3 linked regions of the Homo sapiens genome follow. The protein of the gene in region 1 interacts with the protein of each later gene in a pairwise test. Each region holds a gene or a part of one and is shown on either strand. Other genes may lie near its edges.

Region 1 (5,475 bases):
TGTGGCAAAAGAATGCTTCGCTCGGTGGCCGGCACAGCACATCTGAAGCACTGAACAAACTTAATCAGGATGCTTCTAGCTTTCTTGTCACTCACTGCACTGGATTCTGCTGCCCAGTTAACTAGTCAGTGGAAAGTAAGACAGAATAGAATTGCTATGGATGGAATGTTTGTGTCCCCACAAATCTCAAAATGTTGAGGCCTAATCCCCAGTGTGATGGTATTTGGAGGTGAGGACTTTGCGAGGTATTAGATCATGAGGGTTGAGCCCTCATGAATGGGATTATTATCCTTAGAAGAAGAAACACCAGAAAGATGATCTCTTGCTCTACCATGTGAGAACACAGCAAGAAGACAGCCATTGCAAACCAGGCAGAGGGGTCTCACCAGAACCCAACCATGCTGTCCCTTGCCTTGGACTTCCCAGCCTCCAGAACTGTGAGAGATAAATTTCTGTTATTGAAGTCCCCTAGTCTATGGTTTTCCACTATAGCAGCCCAGGCTGACAGAGACAAGAATGAACTACCCGACCATGAAAATTAACTCTTTAATGTCATCAAGAACATATTTAATGCTGCTACTTGGAATAGTTAAGAATCGATATGCAATAGTCTACAAAAAGGTACCACAAATTTTGAAGTATAAGAAACCTGTGTCTGCATCTAGGCAGGCAAAAGTAAGTATGTGCTTATGTAGAACACACAACACACGGATTCTACCCATATGACCTATTTTTCTTCTTACCCCTACAAGGCTGGTGAGGGTCTGCTTGCTTTCTATAACCACTGTGTGGCACAGAAGCCCAATTACTGTCTTTCTCTCCATTTCAGTTTAACACAACTTTACCTCCATTGCCTTCCCTGTGCTGAGCCCTGGGGACACTGAGGAGACCAGGAGGCAGTGCTACCTTCAAGAACAGCAGTCTAGCAGGAAGACAGACACTTATCGGCTCCATTTCTGCCAGATTCTGCCACTGGAAAGGGTTTACACATAGATTCCTGGTCTCAGGTATGAGAGTTCCCAGACGGAGCTGTTAAGCTTGGCTCCCGCCAACAGGTGGAGGTCTCACCTGTGTGTCTTTGCCCAGGTGACAGCAAAGCCATTTGAGTGTGCCCTCTCTGGCCTTCCCTTCCTGCTCTGCTGCCACCGTGGAACCACCTCCTCTTCCTTCACTTAGGATCATGTATGGTGGCCCTTCCCACTTTCAGATACCCACCCCCATCTCTCTTCAACAAGAGAGAAAGAAAAGCCTGGGGGACAGCCCACTGCAGTGAATAGAAATTCCTTCCCACTGACATGTTAAATACCTCTCATGGCAAAGGCTGGCCCTGAACACCCGCATCCGTGATTTAAGACTCTGTGGGTTGAGGGAGAAGAAGAGAATCCCAGGGATATCAGAGGATATGAGATCCCTTCCCCTCCCCTGCCCGGTCATCTTTCAAGCCCCCCAACCCTGAGCTGAGAACTAGAGACACGGGCTCTCCAATCAAGGGAGGCGGGTGACTTAGAGGTGAGTACAAGCCACCGCCTGGAGAGCAGAGAAGTCTGAGTGAAGGCAGCTGTGTCAGCCCCAGGGAACCGAGGCAATCCTCCCACCAGAGATCAAGACCCCGGTCCCAGGCCTTTTACTGGCTGTGGATAGGAGGAGAGAGAGAAGGAGAAAGCAATGTGTGAATGAGCACACATTTGGTTTTTGATACTGATTATAGCTGTAAGGAATTGACCACACAAGGGAACAGAGAAACTGGTTTGGCTATGTCAACATAATTCTAATCAAAGTCATTTATGCCAGCCACCTTACCTTTTGTGTGTAATAGTCACGTTACCCCATAACAATGATGTACCTTCATAAAGGTGGTTCAGAGTGTTTCTAAGTTTTGATTAGGGCAGTAATTGATTGATCTATCTAGGTGCCAGCCTTTGCAATTTCTTTCTTTTTTTTCTTTTCTTTTTTTTTTTTTTGAGATGGAGTCTCCCTCTGTTGCCCAGGCTGGAGTGCAGTGGCGCGATCTTGGCTTACTGCAACCTCCGCCTCCCAGGTTCGAGCAATTCTTTTGCCTCAGCCTCTTGAGTAGCTAGAACTACAGGCATGTGCCACCACACCCAGCTAATTTTTAGCTAATATTTAGAAGAGACGGGGTTTCACCATGTTGGCCAGGCTGGTCTTGAACTCCTGGCCTCGTGATCCACCCGTCTCAGCCTCCCAAAGTGAGCCACCACGCCCTGCCCAACCCAGCCTTTGCAATTTCTACCTTAAGTTATGTAGTCCTCTGTTCTCCACTTTAACAGATGAGCAACACCATTGCTTTTAAACTATTCGATAGAATGAGGTTTGAGTTGTGTGTGTGAGAGCAGGTTGTGTGCGAGTATGTGTGTGTCTATTTATTCAGTATTTCCCCTGATAACTTTCTGTTCTCTGAGCAGTTGCTATATAGCTTTCTTATTCCTGTGCTTGGAATTTGATTTTTCTTTTTTGAAGGCTGTAAATTCTACCTTTTTTCCCTTACATACACATATATATGTAGATATCCCCCCAATAAGCCTAACTAGACCTTACGATTCATAAATTATGTTGCCACAACAGCTCAGTTTAGACAAATTTATAACAAATTTGTGAAATTAACAGAACTTTGAGACCCCTGTCTTTCACAGGACCTGCAGTCGCCTGGGAACCACCCTACCAGAAGTGAAAGTGACACTCTCTTGCTTCTGTTCCAAGTTCTGTTGCCATTGCTTGGAGCAGTCTGATTCTCTACCTGAAAGATGGTGTTTCAATCAATCTTGGTGAATGAGAGGAGAATATTTAGTGCATAACTGGAGTTGAGTGAAAGACAATATAGTAAATAAATGAATGATGTTTTATCATTTCAGAAAAATATAGTGATAACTTTAAAATCATTAGGCAGTATTAGGATATCTTATGGAACTGTATTTTATATCCAACTGTGAATAACAGGTAAGTAGAAAACAAATTGCAAAGATTCATTTATGGTCATTTTTAAATTTGATTACCCATTTAAATCCAGCAGCCAAGTGGTTTCAACAGACTTTCTACTTGAGGTGAAAATAATAACACTACAAACATATGGCAGAGCTTCGTACAAGCATTTCACTCACAGAGGAGTTTATGTTTTCGAGGATGTAGGAAAAGATTTTCCAAGTGTGAAAACTAAATATATACAAAAGCAATACATTTTGTTATTAGTTAAATAAAATGTGTCTTTAAATATGGAATTCTTTGAAAAACTCACTTCATCGTCCAAAATTATGGAGACTATTTCACTTTTTTAATCAAAGATGGAATATTCATCACAGTTCCCCAAGGGATTTTCTAACTGGCCTGGGCAAGGAGTTCACTTGTAGAGTGTAGTTAGTGAAAACATCCAGTGGCCAAGCCTCATCAATAACTGTATCCAAAAGGAGACGCTGCTTGGGGTGTACCCAGAGAAAACACCAAGCTTTCCTGGCTTCCCGGCCCTCCCTCTCCCCATTAGTCTTTGGGGTGCATACATAAGTGTTGTGTGAAGTCTCTTGGGGTTTAGAAGATCTTGCACTCATTGATGGAGAAGAGCCTCCTTCTGTTTCGTCTCCTGGCCTGGTTGACGGCAGTTCGGACGGCGCACTCAAACACCTGCTGTACTCCCCGATTGCTAAGGGCTGAGCACTCCAGGTAGCCCTTGGCTCTGACATCCTGGGCCAGTTTCTTCCCTTCCATGGCATTGACGCAGGAGGCCCTGTGGGGCCCCATCTCCCGCTGGTCAGTCTGGGTGGCCACCACCAGCACAGGGGTACAGGGCAAGTTGCTCCTAATTTCACCAATCCACTTGTTCTTCAAGTTCAGGAATGAGTTATGGTTGGCCACAGAGTAGCACATCAGCACCACGTCTGCCTGCTGGTAGGACAGGGGCCGGATGCTTCTGAAGGCGTCATTGCCGGCTGTGTCCCAGAGGCCCAGGCTGATCTGGATGCCATCCATGAAGACGTCCACCCCTGTGTTCTCGTACACTGTGGGCTTGTAGGCCTCCGGGAAGGTCTCGGAGGTGAAGCGCACCAACAGAGAGGTTTTCCCCACAGCAGAGTCGCCCACCAACACGCACTTGATGGAACTCAGCATCTTCCCAGCCTGCTGTCCTACTCTGAAGTCCAGAATCCCAGGGAAAAGAGCCCTCAGTGGGCAGCTGCAGCACACGCCATTCAGCAAGGGGAATGCAAGCCAGGTAGGTCTGTGTCCTCAGGACCTCTGACGGCGATTTGCAGAATGTTACTTCTCCCTGCCCATCCAAGCACCGTCTGCTTTGAAAACCTCCAAAGCCTAGTCTTCAACTGGAACAGAAAGAGAAGGGGGAAAATGAAGTCTTTCTTTCTTTCTTGCCTTTTTTGAAGATAAGGGGCTTCCTCATTGGCAAACTGATTAAATGTGGGGTAATCTCAGTGTAGCCATCCAACCCCGCTTGTGCAATCCACTCTTCCCCTCACAGGGAGAGCTTAGATCTGTCTTCCCCCAACACACACACACACACACACACACACACACACACACACACACACACACACAAATGCCTCCCGGTCAAGAAGCAGAAGCTGACTTTATCTGTAAAATCACTCAAGCACTAAAAAACACAAGCAACTGCTCTGACTGCAACATGAAATAGACCTCAGTAGCAACCTGGTGTGTGAAGGAGAAGTTTCCAAACAGCTCTCTGTCGGCTTCTACTCCAAGAAGTGGCAAAGGCCCCGAGAGCGTTCTCCACGGCTTCAGTTTCTGATGGATCTAGCCATGTTGGAAACTGCAAGAAACAAGAACGTTATGAGCGACAGATACTATATGCATTTCTTTTTGTTTATTGACTAATCACACAGTCCTTGGTTTATGGGAATATGTGTTGTAATAGGGGAAAAGAAATTACTAGAACTCTAAAAATTTGCTGTGGTTTTTCCCTTGAGGTTTTTCCAAAAACTGGTAAGAGATGCAACAGACTGGCCTTAGAGTTATCTGCATCTGAAATCAGGCACTGTCACCTACACATGGCTTTGAGCACGCTGCTTGAACTCCACACCTCAGCTTACACATCTGCAAGATTGTGATAAATTTAGGAACCACTTCTCAGAGATGCTGTGAGGATTAAGTTATTTCTTTCTTTTAACATTTTTGGTGGCCATCTGTGTATCCCGAACTCCGCTAGGCCCCTGGTTAAACAAAATAACTTGCTTGAAAGCAACCATATTCAGTGCCTGTCACTTAAACAGAGGACTGCATAAATGGGACAATCTGAATTTCATTAAAGGCCAAATAAATTCTCATTCAGTGCAGTGGGAAAGCCCCAGGCAATGAGCTCCGCCTTGGAGACAGTGTCGTGTCTGCTGTGGCACAATATCACAAGGCCAGCCCAGCTCCAGACGAAGGAAAAGTCTTTCAGACCAAAATTCAGAGTAAAGGTTATTCCTGCAACCTGGGCTTGTAACCTCCCCTCCCTGG
Region 2 (7,930 bases), on another chromosome or scaffold:
TAAGTAACTGATCCCAATGACTGGTTCAGACACATGACTACAGAGGTGGAAGGTTATCATTTTTTTAGAGACAGGGTCTTGCTGTGTCACTCAGGCTGGAGTGCAGTGGCACAATCTTAGCTTATGGCAGCCTCAAACTCCTAAGCTCAAGCAATTCTCCTGCCTCAATCTCCCAAGGACCTAGGACTACAGGTATGTGCCATCACACCAACCTGATTTTTTTTTTTTAATAATTTTCTGAAGAGACAGGATCTCACCACATTGCCCAGTCTGGTCTCAAACTCCTGGCCTCAAGTGATCCTCCCACCTCAGCCTCCCAAAGTGCTGGGACTATAGGTGTGAGCCACCGTGCCTAGCCAAGGTTACCTTAAGGTAATCCTATTCATTCATTTTACAGAATAAAAAAACAAAGATAACTTACCATAGGCCATATAACTCAGTAGCCGCAAAGCCAAGACCAGAAACTAGGTCTGACAGGTGAGCTCAAACTCTCTGTGTGAGCATCAACACCTCCACCTTTCTGTCAGGATCACAGGAGCTACGAAGCAGCTCAATACTACAGCTGCTCTGTTCTTGTCGTATCTTGGTCTCCGCAGAGTCCAAGATCTATCCACCTTTCACTTGTTTGGACAGATAAAATTCTTAAGTTCTCTGTCAAAGCACAATTATCATTAAATATTAAGAACTAGAAGAATATACCTCAGGGACTATCCAACTCAATTCCCTCCTCTAGACCAGGAAACCAAGAAACAAAGATCAAATGACTGGCTCAAGGCCTCACAGCTAACTGCTGACAGAGCTAGAACCAGCGTTCCAGCCTCCCAACATCCAGCTCAGTGCTCCTACCCTTCCCAGAACTTCTTCGACCTACACCTTCTCAACTTCATGATGAGCCACAAAGTGGGTAAGGGGCAAGAAGCATGCAGAGCACTTTCAATCTTTGTATAAGATGGTTATGGTAGCACTAGAAAAGGCCTTCTCCCTCTTTTTCCAAGAAATTCTGGCAGGGTTCTGAATACCTCACCCCCCTGCAACCCCCAGTTCATGGGAATCACACATGTGTAGCGTTCAGCATGGGGCAAAACAAGGAACAAGATGCTCAATCACACCTAGTGGATGAGACAAGGGTAAACTGGAACAAGTTCTAAGGTTGGGAAGTAAGCAATGTTGTCTTTGTCTACCCAGAATCCATCCCTCCTTTTGATGGGAACCTTGGTTTTCCTTTTGAGAATGTACCCTCTCCATTTCAGCCCAAGGGGTTCAAAGCAGTCTTATCCAAACACCTAACAGGCTCTGGGACCCAAAGCAGGTCAATCCCTCCCTCTGGCCATAATGATTGGTTCACAGATGAACATGAGAATTAAGGCAGCCCAGTGAGCATCAGATCAGGGACTTCTGCTCCATTAGGAAGGAGGGCTCAACTTCTCTGCTGGGGCTGTCAGCCTAGAACTGTCATAACCTGCCATAAGGAGAAAGTCTCCCTGAGAATGAAGCGGATACTGAATAAATCAGAGCCAAGAGATGATAAAGAGAAGTCTGAAGCCAATGTTGGTGGTGCTCCCGGATTCAGCCACACTAGAAGCCAGCTCAACCCCATTTTAGGTAAATCAATTTGAGTTCAGTTTCCATTACCGAAACTGAAAGAAGTGCTCACTTTTACAAGGAATGGCACTCAAATTCTACCAGTAGGGGAGGCGCCTGTGGAAAATGGCTTCCCCTCTCTCAGCCTTTCACTGGACTTTCCTTTGAGGTAAAAAAGACTCTACCAGCTGGTGTAGAAAAGACTCTTCTGCTCCTAAAAGGCTGTGAGTCTATAAATCTAGCACAGATCACCTTGGCCCCCTAAAGACCACCTGAGGCCTACAGCCTAACTCATCATTATCCACTTGCCTGACTCCATTTCCAGCACTTCACTTACAGGAAGCTCCTTCCAGATGGAAGTTCTCCACCCCTCCCACATACTTCCACAGGGTGGGTCTGGTTTTCTGCTCACCCTTAACAAGCTGTGGCAACGGCAAATCCAGGTCAAGGTAGGTTTGGGACCCCCCTACTCACAAACACAAGCAGGAGCCATGGTCTGTGTTCAGCAAGAAAGCCTGGCCATGCTGCAAAGTGAGTGCATTCATGTCTCAAGTGGTTAGCAGGTGGGTGACCCCTTGGGGATGGCCAGGGAGTCTGGCCTGTGGCCTCCATGAACTCTGAACACCTCTCTCCGTCTCCCACTTTGTCAGAGGCTCTGATAAGTACATCCTGGTTATGGCAGGGGAATAAACTAAAACATGTTTAACTTGAGGCCGGGAAATTATCTGTCTCACCCTCCTATGCCCAAGGAGAGCCCAGGGCAGGCTACTGGGGGGATTTTCCTGGAGATTATACCAAAATATTCCCTTACACAGCCTCTGAAACCATTTGGGTAGGGAGGGGCCCGCGACCGTCTATCCTTGTGGCGGTGACAGATCAGTAGAGTGAATTGCAGGAGTCAGTATTGTCGAGATTGTAACTTGAGGTTTAGATTCCTGGGTAACAGAAGCGAGGGCAAAGGCTCGCCCACCTCCCCGGACACGAAGAGGGGCCAACTTCCTCCAAGAACGGGGCCTTCCCGCGGGCCAGGAACTGTGACGGCCGCCGCCCCCTCAGGCCGAGTGCAGCAGTTCCGCGGGCATACGCGTCCAGGAACCAGACTCGGGCCGCCCCGTGCCCACCGACCCTCCGGAAACGAACCGGATCTCGCCCGGCCTCATGGACCCCTTCCCCCGGCTCCTGTTCCGGGGCTCCGGCGAGCGCGGCCCTCGCCAGACTGCGGCGGGCCGGGCTCCTCACCCGCGCGTCCCTGCCCGCCGAGGTGCAACACGCGCGGCCGCGCAGCGAGGGCTGCACGCTGCCCGGACGCCGGCTGCCGGCGGAGTGCCCTCACCTTACTCGCGGTGGCTTTCTGGAGGCTGCCATTCGGCGGTGACGTGCCCCAGCCCACGTCAGGGGAGCGCAGACCAGCTGATCACCCGCGGAAGGGCCGGCGCGAAGGAGGCGCGAGAGCCGGCGGGCGGGCGGGCGGGCTAGCGCCGGGTCGGCCACGCCCTCGCCCGTGGCGGGCGCTGGCGCCGCGGCCCCGCCCACACGCAGGCCCCGCCCACACTCCCGGACCTGGGGTTCGCGGCCGCAGCGCCTGCGGCCCAGAGCGGGGCCTGCCCTTCCACACCAGTCCGCATTGCCTCTCCCTGCAGCGAGCGGGGAAAGGACGCAGTGCTGCTGAGTGTCTTCATTTTTGTTCGTTTTTGTCGTCATTCCTCAAAGAGGAAAAAGGGCTTTGCCGAATAAAGGGGCTACTGTCCCAGGGATTTTCCGGCTTAATTTAGGAGGGCTGAGAAGAGAGGGACGTGGCCGGCTCCGGAAGAACCTCGACAGGGTCTTCGAGGCTTTGGAACAGGGTCTCAAGCTTTAGAAATGTCCCCAAAAGTATGTTCCCAGAGAGCTTCAAAATCCAGCTCTCCGCTCCGCTTGGATAGTAAATAGCCCCTTCAAACTTAACGTCCAAACGGAACTCCTGGAACTCCCAATGCACCGAAGCAAAGCAAAAACGTTCTCCACCAGTCTTCTTTGCCATCTCAATCAATGGCTACTCTATTCTTAAGAGGCAAAATTTAGGAATCCTCCCTGCCTCTTCTCTTTCACACCCCACATCTAATCTGCCAGCAAAATCTTGTTGGCCCTGCCTCCAAAATAGACCCCTAATCTGGCCGTGTCACACCACCTCCACCTCCTACCCTCTGATGTGCATCAGAGGGTTGTACCACCCCACCCGTGTGGTTACAGCAGCCCCCCAAATATCCCCTCACCATCCCGCACCTGCACAGTCCAGCCTGAACAAAGCCGCCAGACCAGTCCTTTGAAGCGTGACACCAGGTCACTTCTTTGCTCAGCACTTTCCATTAATTTCTCGTTTCACGCAGCATAAAAGCTCCATTTGATCTACCCCCAGCCACATTTCCTCCTGTTCTCACCTTCCTCACTCTTCTTCAGCTGAAATGGCCTCCTGGCTCTCCTTGAAAAAGCAGGGTACACTCATGTCCCAGGGCTTTTGGACTTGCTCATCCCCCAAATATTGAGGCTCCCTTCCTCATTTTCCTTCAAGTCTTCGTTCAAGTATCACCTACCCTGACCATCCTATTTAAATTTGTAAATCATTCCAATATTCCTAATCCGCCTTACCCTACTTCATTTTTTCCATAGCACTTACCACCTTTTAACAGGATTCTTTTAATGTACTTATGTGTACTGTATTCTTCCCCCTCTCCTGCCACCACCCACGCACACAACAAAACCATCAGTGCAGATTGTTTCTGTTTTGTTTAATGATGAACAATATCTAACATGTCATAAGTTCTCATTATATATTTTCTGCAGAAATGAATGTTTCAGAATGTGCACTCCTCAAAAGCAGGGATGGTGGCTCTCTTGTTCATTGTTATTTCCCTGGTGCTTAGAACAACACCTGGCACTAAATGAAAGTGACCACATTTTTTTAAAGGTGAATGGCACCTCCTCCTGCTTTGACCTTGGTGTAAGGCCTAATATACCTGTATCAGCTAGGTTCTGCTACCTGCAAGAACTCAAAGTCGTTATTGAATAAGCATTTAGGCAAGCCGAATTAGACTGTGTAGTTAAAGCATGAAAAAACTAAAGATGTGCTTCCTGGGAAAGCAGCACACATCTGTTGCATTTCCCCAAATTTATGAAGCCAAAAACAGAGAGATTGTAAATAAAATACTGGTTCCAGCCCACATCTGAAAGCTGGTGGGAAAAATCAAGTTATAAGAGAAAACGAGATAAGAGAGAGAGAGATAAGTGAAACTTAAGGGGGACAGGTATTTAATAATCACATTGCCTAAAAGAAAAGGAGTTGGCTCAGAATTTACGGCATCCAGCTTCAGGGGAGAGAGAGAAATACCTTGCATTCCCTGAGCTGGATTTGAGTTCCTGTTTGCAAGATAAAAAAAGGAACCCTTTCCCCTCTTGAAGTTTTTTTGTTTGTTTGTTTTTTGAGATGGAGTTTTGCTCTTTTTGCCCAGGCTGGAGTACAATGGCACAATCTCAGCTCACTGCAACCTCTGCCTCCCGGCTTCAAGCAATTCTCCTGCCTCAGCCTCCTAAGTAGGTGGGATTACAGGCATGCGCCACCACACCCGGCTAATTTTTTGTATTTAGTAGAGACGGAGTTTCACCATGTTGGTCAGGCTGGTCTTGAACTCCTTGGCCTCGACCTTCCAAAGTGCTGGGATTACAGGCATGACCCACTGTGCCCGGCCTCGCTCTTGAAGTTCTAACAAGAGAACCTCTGGAGAAGTTATAGCACTGAATTACCATGAGAGAATGAGAACACCAGGAGTTATATAGGTTCTTCTCCTGGCTCTACAGTCCTTGCATCCTCAAAGAAGTGGAACAGTCACACTGCCTGACATTCATTGAAGGCTATGTGTCTAACCCACAACAAACCAATGGGTGAAGGACTCTTATCCTCATTTTACTGGTTGAGGAGACTGAAATTTGCAGAGGTTAAGCCCCTTGCCCAAAGTCCCTGAGCTAGTAAGTGGTGGTACTGTAACATACATTCAGACAGCAGGATGGATTCCTAGCCCTGACACTTAATCGCGAAGTTATCTGGAAGGGACCCTAGAGGTGGCCTCATCCAGTCTCCTAGCCCACACAGCAGAAAGAGGGAGACAGCTGGTTTTGGCATTCACACCCAGACCGGGTGGGTCTTAGATGTAGCCAGAAATATTAAATGCGTAGAAATATGTTGGATTGAATTGTGACCTCAAAAATTCATATGTTGAAGCTCTAACCCCTAGTACTTTCGAATGTGATCTTATTTGGCAATAGGATCAGTGCAGATGTAATTAATTAAAATGCAGTCATATTAGAGTAGGAAGGATCCCTAATCCAATATGAAGTGTCTTTATTTAAAACAGAAAAAGAAATCACACTGTGCACACAGGAAGAACACCATGTGAACACGAAAGCAGAGATCAGGACGATGCATCTACAAGCCAACAAACACCAGGACTGCCAACAAACTGCCGAAAGCTAGGACAGAGCCATGGAACAGATTCTCCCTCACAGCCCATGGAGTGAACTAACCCTGTGGGTATCTTGATCTTGGACTTCCAGCCCTCCAGAACAGTGAGACAACAAATTTGTTTTCAAATCACGCAGTTTGTGTTGCTTTGTTACGAAAGCCCTAGGAAACCAATGTAAAACAAGTTCCAAATGTCCGTGTATAGATTGTGGACCTGTGTTTTGGGCCACCCGACATTCATTCATTCTCCTTCTGATAACCATCCTACCAATTCCCTCTGGGGCCCACCTCTCCCTACTTCCCTCCTTTCCCCATTCTCTATGTATGTTATCCAAGTGCAACACTTGGATTCCAAGAGTGTATCATGTAACCCAGGCATAGGCTACAATGATAGGATCAGATATTGCTATGGGAATAGAGTCTTGCTTCCTTCTGCCAGCCAAGATCCTGGATGCATATACTCGAACTGCTGCCTCTATGTGCAACATGTGAATGGCACCAAGGCAGCAGAAGACAGAGCAAATAGAAAGGGGAGAAGCAGACCTCAAAACGTTATTTGAGTGCTGCATCCTGCAACACCTTAAACCAGATGTCCCACTGGACTTTACTTAAGTAACCATCTGTACCATTGAATTTTATGCATGAGTAGATATCATTTTATTAATGTAGACAATCACGAACTAACAAAGGGAAAAAGTAAATTATAAAACAATATAATATCCCTTTTTTTGTTTTTGTTTTTTGTTTTTTGTTTTTTGAGACAGAGTCTCGCTCTGTCACTCAGGCTGGAGTGCAGTGGCACAGTCTCGGCTCACTGCAAGCTCCGCCTCCTGGGTTCACACCAATCTCCTGCCTCAGCCTCCCGAGTAGCTGGGACTACAGGCTCCCGCCACCACACCTGGCTAATTTTTTGTATTTGTAGTAGAGATGGGGTTTCACCGTGTTAGCCAGGATGGTCTCGATCTCCTGACCTTGTGATCTGCCCACCTCGGCCTCCCAAAATGCTGGGATTACAGGCGTGAGCCACTGCGCCTGGCCAATATCCCATTTTTATAACATATCCATAACTATGTATACTGATACGGATATATAGATACAGAGTTTTTTGGGAGGGAGAGACAGGGTCTTGTTCTGTCACCCAGGCTGGAGTGCAGTGGTGTGATCACAGCTCACTGCAGCTTCGACCTCCCAGGCTCAAGCAATCCTCCCACCTTAACCTTCTGAATAGCTGGGACCATAGGCACACACCACCACACCCAGCTAATTTTTTTTCCTTTGGTAGAAATAGGGTCTCCCTATGTTGCCCAGCCTTGGTCTCAAACTCCTGGGCTCAAGCAATCCTCCCGCCTCAGCCTCCCAAAGTGTTAGGATTATAGGCACGAGCCATTACACCCAGAGTAAGTACTTTTTTAGAATAAAAGGAAAGTGATCCACAAAATCTTAGTGCATATCTTGAGGTGGCAGAACTTGGGCTGATTTTAATTTTGCCATTTTTTTGAGATTGTTTTTTATTAACAAGAAACTCAAAGTACTAATAATTTCTCTGGCCCTTACTCCTTGGAAGGCAGAGCCAAGGAACTCGTTTTGTACTCCAAATCCAAGCACTACAAGTAATAGTAGCCCTCTAGTATTCAATTTGATAATTGGTTGATGACCTGACCACTTATTGAAACAGGAGCAACATCTCTTGATAAACTCCCAGATGAGAGGACTAAAAAAAATAGAAATCCCTGTAGGAGATCAAACAAAATTATAGCTTTAGAGGAGAGTTTTAACCTTTTCAAACATTTCAGTTTGTTCTAATAAAATTGATAGTTACAAGAACAGTAATGAGTGAAGCTCTCATAAATCATTATA
Region 3 (7,038 bases), on another chromosome or scaffold:
CATAAAAGCTAACAATCAAAAGAAATGGAGGTCAAAAGAAGGCTAGTTCATTGAGTCAGCTGCCAATATTACTTTACAGAAATAAACACTGGAATAATAATGGCCTCTTCATGTTATACAAATGACACAATTTATTCATATAAAGTTCTGATTAGTGCTCTAAATTGACCAGGTAATAAAATATGATGTGGGGGTAAATACCATTGTAATACTCAAAGATACTGTATCCACTGTAATAAATATACACATCAAAAGTCTATTTTTTTCCATCTAAAGACAGATCAAGTTATGAAGAAATTCTTTGGCTTATACAAGTTCTTAGAGATAAAATATATGATCAGCAAAAAAACATAGCTAAGTGTATAAAAACAGTGAAATGCATTTTATGGTTTCTATTTTGCCAACACAGTTACAGTTAACGAGAATTGTCATGACAAAATGATTGCTTTTATGAAAAGAACCTTCTTTATTACCAACCAATCAAATTTCATTTTTATTACTGATGTAAAAAAGTTCAAAACCATAATTCATTTATAGAGCGTACAAAAATAAGAAAAGTGTTCAAGAATAGAGGAGAGGATCATTTACAAAGCAATAAAAAATTAAAGCATGCATCCCTTTTACTGGCAAGGCAAATACTTCTATATATGAATGTCTATAGCTGGATTTACTGAATATTATAACTTCTGTCTTTGAAAAAAAAATGAGAAGCCTGAATTTTCAATATCTCATCTCTATTTGATATCTTCAGTCCATCTGATAACTGCTTATCAAGAAACTTCAAAAATGTTTGAAAAATATTAAAAAGTTTGGTGGCGTTTTCTTTCAATTTTCACCAAAATATGGCAAGCTTGGGCTAACGTTAATAACTCAAAAGTCTTCAAAGAAATAAGACTGACAAATTTTATGGGGCACCCATCACCAAAATCTTTTAAGTTAAAAACTAAAAATCATGTAATTTCAGAGTATAAAATGTTAATAAACCACATTAAGTAAATTAAAACTCATATTACAGCCTATGAACTATTTCATTAGCAGAAAACAAGCCTCTGAAGGGATCTTATTATCAAAGTTTTCAAAAATTTACATAATATTGCTGTTAAGAATTTAGTTTTGGCCAGGTGCAGTGGCTCACACCTATAATCCCAGCACTTTGGGAGGCTGAGGCGGGCAGATCACATAAGGTCAGCAGTTCAAGACCAGCCTGGCCAACATGGTAAAACCCCGTCTTTACTGAAAATACAAAAATTAGCCAGGTGTGGTGGTGGGCACCTATAATCCCAGCTACTTGGGAGGCTGAGGCAGGAGAATCACTTGAACCTGGGAGGCAGAGGTTGCAGTGAGCTGAGATCACCCCACTGCACTCCAGCCTGGGCAACAGAGCAAGACTCCATCTCAAAAAAAAAAAAAAAAAAAAAAAAAAACCAGTTTCAACCTATTCAGCAATACAGTATAATAAAATACAGGATCCACTGCTGTCAATAAACTATATCTTGCCTCTAGTCTGAAGTATAACCTATTTTGTCACTATTTTGCTTTACCATCTGCACCATTCAATCTCAGCTTCGTATCTTCAAGGTCATAAGCACAACTGTGTAAGATTATTCATATGACTAATATGTTTTTTTTTTAATTCTCTTAAACGTGACGGTCGGTCCAATAACTTTTTAATAATTCCTCAGTGCCTTCCTCAATACTGGAAAATCCTCAGAATACTGAGTAAAAATAACAAAATATCTTTATTTTCAAGAGCAAAAGATTAAAGGCTGGGCACGGTGGCTCACGCCTGTAATCCCAGCACTTTGGGAGGCCGGGGTGGGCAGATCACCTGAGGTCGGGAGTTCGAGACCAGCCTGAACAATGTGGAGAAACCCGGTCTCTACTAAAAATACAAAATTAGCCAGGTGTGGTGGCACATGCCTGTAATCCCAGCTACTCAGGAGTCTGAGGCAGGAGAATCACTTGAACCCAGGAGGCGGAGGTTGCAGTGAGCCAAGATTGTACCACTGCACTCCAGCCTGGGCAACAAGAGCGCAACTCCATCTCAAAAAAGAGAAAAATGAATTTAATGCATTGTATTTCTTCAATTATCTGTTGCAACTGTCATCATTAAATATTCTGATACATGGATATACAAGCCTTTACCATCATTTTCTTCATTGTGAGCAATAGCATCACTTCTATATTACAAAAGCCTTTAAACCTTTATTTTCTACTTCCTTTAGCCTCTGGAACTCTTCTGAATGCTTTTCAAGTCCAGATTCCCCAGTACTCATGTGAGGAGGGATGGAATGAAAACACTTTATTACCAATATAAAAACAAATTTTTAAAAACATACCTGTTTTAATCACACTTTCAAGATGCGTACATATGGGTTCCATGGAACGCTGCAAAACTACTTTCCTAGCTCATACTATAAATTAATGCTACTGCTTAAATGAAGTTATTAATAAATTTAAATAATTAAGCACCCAAATGCCCACAACGAGATAAATGGAATATTCCGACCATTCTTTTTTCATCCTTTATATAGTTTACTGAGCTTCTAAATAAAGAACAGAACAGATATTGTTCTTATTTCAAAAGATTAATAAATTATAGTATGATGAAACTAACTGATGTGCTTAAAATATGGCAAGGCACCGGTGGAGTAATAAATCAGAAAAGATGGTATATGAGTAAAGAAAAGTAAGAATACTTTGGGCATTTTCTGCTGTCCAAAATGGTAATGGGATACTACATGTTAAGAGTTAATATCCTCAAAGGACCCCTTACTATAAGGTGAAAGGCTCTTGGGCAATAAAAGTAACAATAGAAACTAACATGTACTGAACATTTATTATCTACCACCCTATACTAGATACTTGACATACATTATAAATATATTATCCCCTTTTACAAATGAGGAAACTGAGGACTAGAAAGGCCTGCCAACAAGAAGCAGGGTTGAGCTTACTCCAGCTCTTACTCCAATGACCTTGTTCCTAACCTTTATACTGAGTTTCAGTATTCTTATCCACAAAATACCTAACAAGACCAAATTGTTATTATTAGCAATTACGTATATAAATCATTTAACACAGTAGCTCAAAAGCTTACTCTTATTATCAATAACCAGCTATGGCAATTCTAATTAACAGACCGCCAATATGACCTATACCAAGATTCAATTTTATAATGAAAATAAACATGGCTGGAGCATATCAAATGTATATATCTTGAAATAAACATCCTGGAATAACAAATTATTCTAGGATACATTACTAAGTAATTTTAATAACTGCAATAACTGTATGTAGATACTTCATATTATTGAATTAAATTATCTGTTATTTACAAATAAATTTTTAAAGCTTTACCAAAATTGTATCTTTAAAGTAACACATTATTATTTTCACCATTTTACAAATGAGAAATCTCAGGCTTAAAAAGGCAGTTAATTTGCCCAAGTTCACACAGCTAGGAAGTAGCTGAATAAGAACCCAGGTTAGACCTTTCACTTCAAAATCCATAGAAAGTGTAAAAGCAACGTGAAGGAAGCAATCAACACTGCAGCCAATTTCTGCTGTTTAGTGCTCAACACCTCTCTCCCTTCTTTTGTGTATCTGGTGGCACTGTGGAGCCCTAATACCTGGAGCCACTCCTGGCACAGGGATGGGCAAGTGAGTTAGGCCTGTCCACCCAAGTACTCTACCCTTTTGGCTGCTCCAAATGCCGTCATGTAGCCCAAATGGGATTACACAACCCTCCCCTATGATATATTCATAACCAACTGACTGGAAGAACAAAATTAAAAAAACAAAATGTGAGTAATGTATTGAAAAATCTCTCCATTAAAAAAAGTGAAAACAAATATACAGGTTATAAAATATTTTTAAACTATTTTTAATAATATCCAGGTCTATTTTTATCCTTTTAAAATTCTAGGCCGGGCACAGTGGCTCACACCTGTAATCTCAGCACTTTGGGAGGCTAAGGCAGGCAGAACACTTGAGGCCAGCAGTTCAAGACAAGCCTGGCCAACATGGTGAAATCCCATCTCTACTAAAAATATAAAAATTAGCTGGGCATGGGGGCAGACACCTGTAATCCCAGCTACTCAAGAGGCTGAGGCAGGAGAATAACTTGAACCTGGGAGGTGGAGGTTGCAGTGAGCCAAGGTTGTGCCACTGCCCTCCAGCCTGGGTGACAAGAGTAAAATGCCACCTCAAAAAAAAAAAAAATTCTAAATCCAGCACATCATCATCTAGAGAAACAACTATTCATTCAAAAGCATAACTTACCATTTCTTTCCATATTAAGCTAAAAGAACAGTTCAAAATTATCTTCCACTTTAAAAAATATATTCCAAAAAACTACTGAACAGATGCATAAATATGTTTACGTAAGCACTGCTTACAACAGACAAAAATCACACACACGTGTGATGGCTTTGGGACACATCAGCTTACCTACACTGAATACACTTGCCAAAATTCCCTTTCTACTATGTCTCTAAAGTGGGCTACAAGGGATATTCTCCGCCAGGTGTTGGGAAGAGAAGAGAGGCAACGTCATTTTGTAGCAGACACACACTTCCTCCTAGCTTTTCTAACCCTAATCTAGGTGCTGCCATAAAGAGATTCTGCTGATATAATTAAAGTCCCTACTTAGTTAGCTTTACATTAATCAAAAGGGAGAGTATCCTAAGTGGCCTGATTTTATCAGTTGAAAGCCCTTTAAAAAAGGGTCTAAGTCCTCCCTGGGATCAGACACTCCAGGTAGTACCTGGTCTTGCCAGTGCTTAGTCCTGGATCTCCCCCGGCTCCTGACTGCCCGCCTTGCATGCTTTGCACTTACTTTGCCAGCCTCCACATTAAGAGCCAATTCTTTGCCATGTGTTTGTGTATGCACATACATGCATGTGTGTGTGTGGCTCGAGAGAGAAATAGATATCCTGGTACTTCTGCTTCTCTGGTTGAACTGACTGATAACAACTCTCTAAATACCCATCCGAGTAATACTACTTAAGTAAATTTTGGCTTCTTCATTACAATGAAATACTACATAACCATTTTAAAATGATGATGTGTAATTCCATTCACAGACATGAAAAGAGATCCCAATATATGACAAAACAGGTTACAAAAAATTATGCATATTATATGTCGATTTTTTTAATTCAGGGAAAGAGAATGAAATAGCTTTGCTCATCAAAGTTTTAATGATGGATGGAATTTTAAAGTCTTAATCTGTGTGGTATGATTTCAGGTAATTTTTACTTTATCTCTGGATTGTTTTCATTTTCCATAATGGCAACATATCATTATCATTATCAGGAAAAAAAAACTAGACAACAAACCTTTCTCATTTGACAGGAAAAAAATGTCAGGTAGACTTACATTAAATGGTTAAAACGGTGCCCAGAGTCTTAAAGGATGAACAGGAGTTATTCAAGCAAAGTGCACATCTCAGGCAAGGGGCAAGGAAAGAAGTGACAAGACATGAGGCTGTCCTACTGACAATGAGAAACCAACAAAATGTTAAAACAAGAGGAGGTTTTTTTTTTTTTAAGGAAAATTAAAATAAAACAAAACAAACAAAAAACCCACTGAGGCTTGCAGTGTATGGACTCTACTGGAAGGAAGCCAGACTGGAAGCAGAGAAATCAATTCAGAGACTACTATGGTTATCTAAGCAAAAAATGACAAAGCTTTGAACTAAGGTAACAGCAGTAGAAATGGACAGAATAAGTCCTATTTAGGAACGATAACTGAGAAAAGTTGGCAAGGGAAATACTGGTAGTAAGGAGATAGAAGCAGTTCACTTAAACTGGGGAGTTCAGAGAAGACTTCTAAAAAGATATCCTTATGAATAAGGATCTCAAAGAAGTCACTTCAAGAATACCACAGAGAGATGCCAGATATCTTTAAATGTTTCCAAAAGAAATAATCAGTGTTAGCTCATGTCCACAGGAAGGAAAGGTAATAAGCAAAGTGTTGGATACACTAAAAATTAGAGCTCTCAACTACAAAAACAGATTCATAATTACTTAAGTTATAACAGATCTATATAGATACATAACTCCAACCTGTACTACCAGAAACAGAACACTGTGAATAGTTGCTGGATTTGAGTCACATTTATAAGTCATTTACAAGTCAAACACAGGGTTTCCGATAAATTATTACTTTAACCACTGCTATAGTCTGAATATCCCCTTCACAACTCATGCTGAAATGGAATTACCATTCTGACAGTATTAACAGGTGGGATTGTTAAGAGATGACTAGATCATGAGGGCTCCACCCTCATGAATGGATTCATCTCTTTATCCCAAGAGTAGGTTGTTGTAAAAGCAAGTTCAGCCCTCTCAGTCCCTGGCTCTTGCCCTCCCTGGCCTTTCCACCTTCTGCCACAGGATAATGCAGCACAAAGGCTCGCATCAGATACCGGCACCTTGAAGCTGGAGTTCGTTGCCTCCCAAAATGTGAGACTTGAATTTTTTTTCTTTGTAACTTACCTAGTCTGTGGTATTCTGTTATAGCAACACAAAACAGATTAAGGCAGCCTCCTGTTTTCACTTCTTGGCAAAACATAATCTTATAAATTTTAACAATTACAATCATTTAAATTACAAAAGTAAACTATGCTCACTATAGTAATTCAAACAATTCAGAAATATAGTTCCTCCACCCTCTACCAACAATCTATCTTTATTATCCCAATCGCTAGTTACAATTAGTTGAATATTCTTAACATATATAAACATATGTATGTTTATATAGATTTCATGAGTTCATACAAAATAGATATTATTTTATAACTTTTTACTTAATATAACCATAGCTTTCAAGACAACGTATTTAACAGATATACTTCTTCATTTTTGGATCTGTAAAAATGTGACCATACCATAATTTTTGTATAAATGTTTTTGACAAATAATAACTGTACATTTAGGAGGTACAACGTGATATTTTGAACTAAATAAATCAAAGAATAGAAAGAATAAATCAAGGTAATTAATATATCCATCACCGCACCAACTTAAATTT

The links.
Region 2: the proteins of RHOH (region 1) and XPNPEP1 interact in binary tests that used the Homo sapiens proteins (3 or more experiments, as listed by UniProt).
Region 3: the proteins of RHOH (region 1) and MTX2 interact in binary tests that used the Homo sapiens proteins (3 or more experiments, as listed by UniProt).

What each region holds. Positions count from the first base shown.
Region 1 is NC_000004.12:40,242,025-40,247,499, reverse strand, and holds the end of RHOH (rho-related GTP-binding protein RhoH precursor), read right to left. Parts: intron 4,787-5,475; 5' UTR 4,666-4,786; exon of another isoform or gene 4,654-4,665; intron 4,323-4,653; 5' UTR 4,114-4,322; coding exon 3,538-4,113; 3' UTR 533-3,537; downstream 1-532.
Region 2 is NC_000010.11:109,920,488-109,928,417, forward strand, and holds the start of XPNPEP1 (xaa-Pro aminopeptidase 1), read right to left. Parts: upstream 3,025-7,930; 5' UTR 2,947-3,024; coding exon 2,915-2,946; intron 2,760-2,914; exon of another isoform or gene 2,410-2,759; coding exon of another isoform or gene 2,393-2,409; intron 1-2,392. UniProt on the Homo sapiens protein: Metalloaminopeptidase that catalyzes the removal of a penultimate prolyl residue from the N-termini of peptides, such as Arg-Pro-Pro. Contributes to the degradation of bradykinin.
Region 3 is NC_000002.12:176,272,428-176,279,465, reverse strand, and holds part of MTX2 (metaxin-2), read right to left. Parts: intron 1-7,038. UniProt on the Homo sapiens protein: Involved in transport of proteins into the mitochondrion.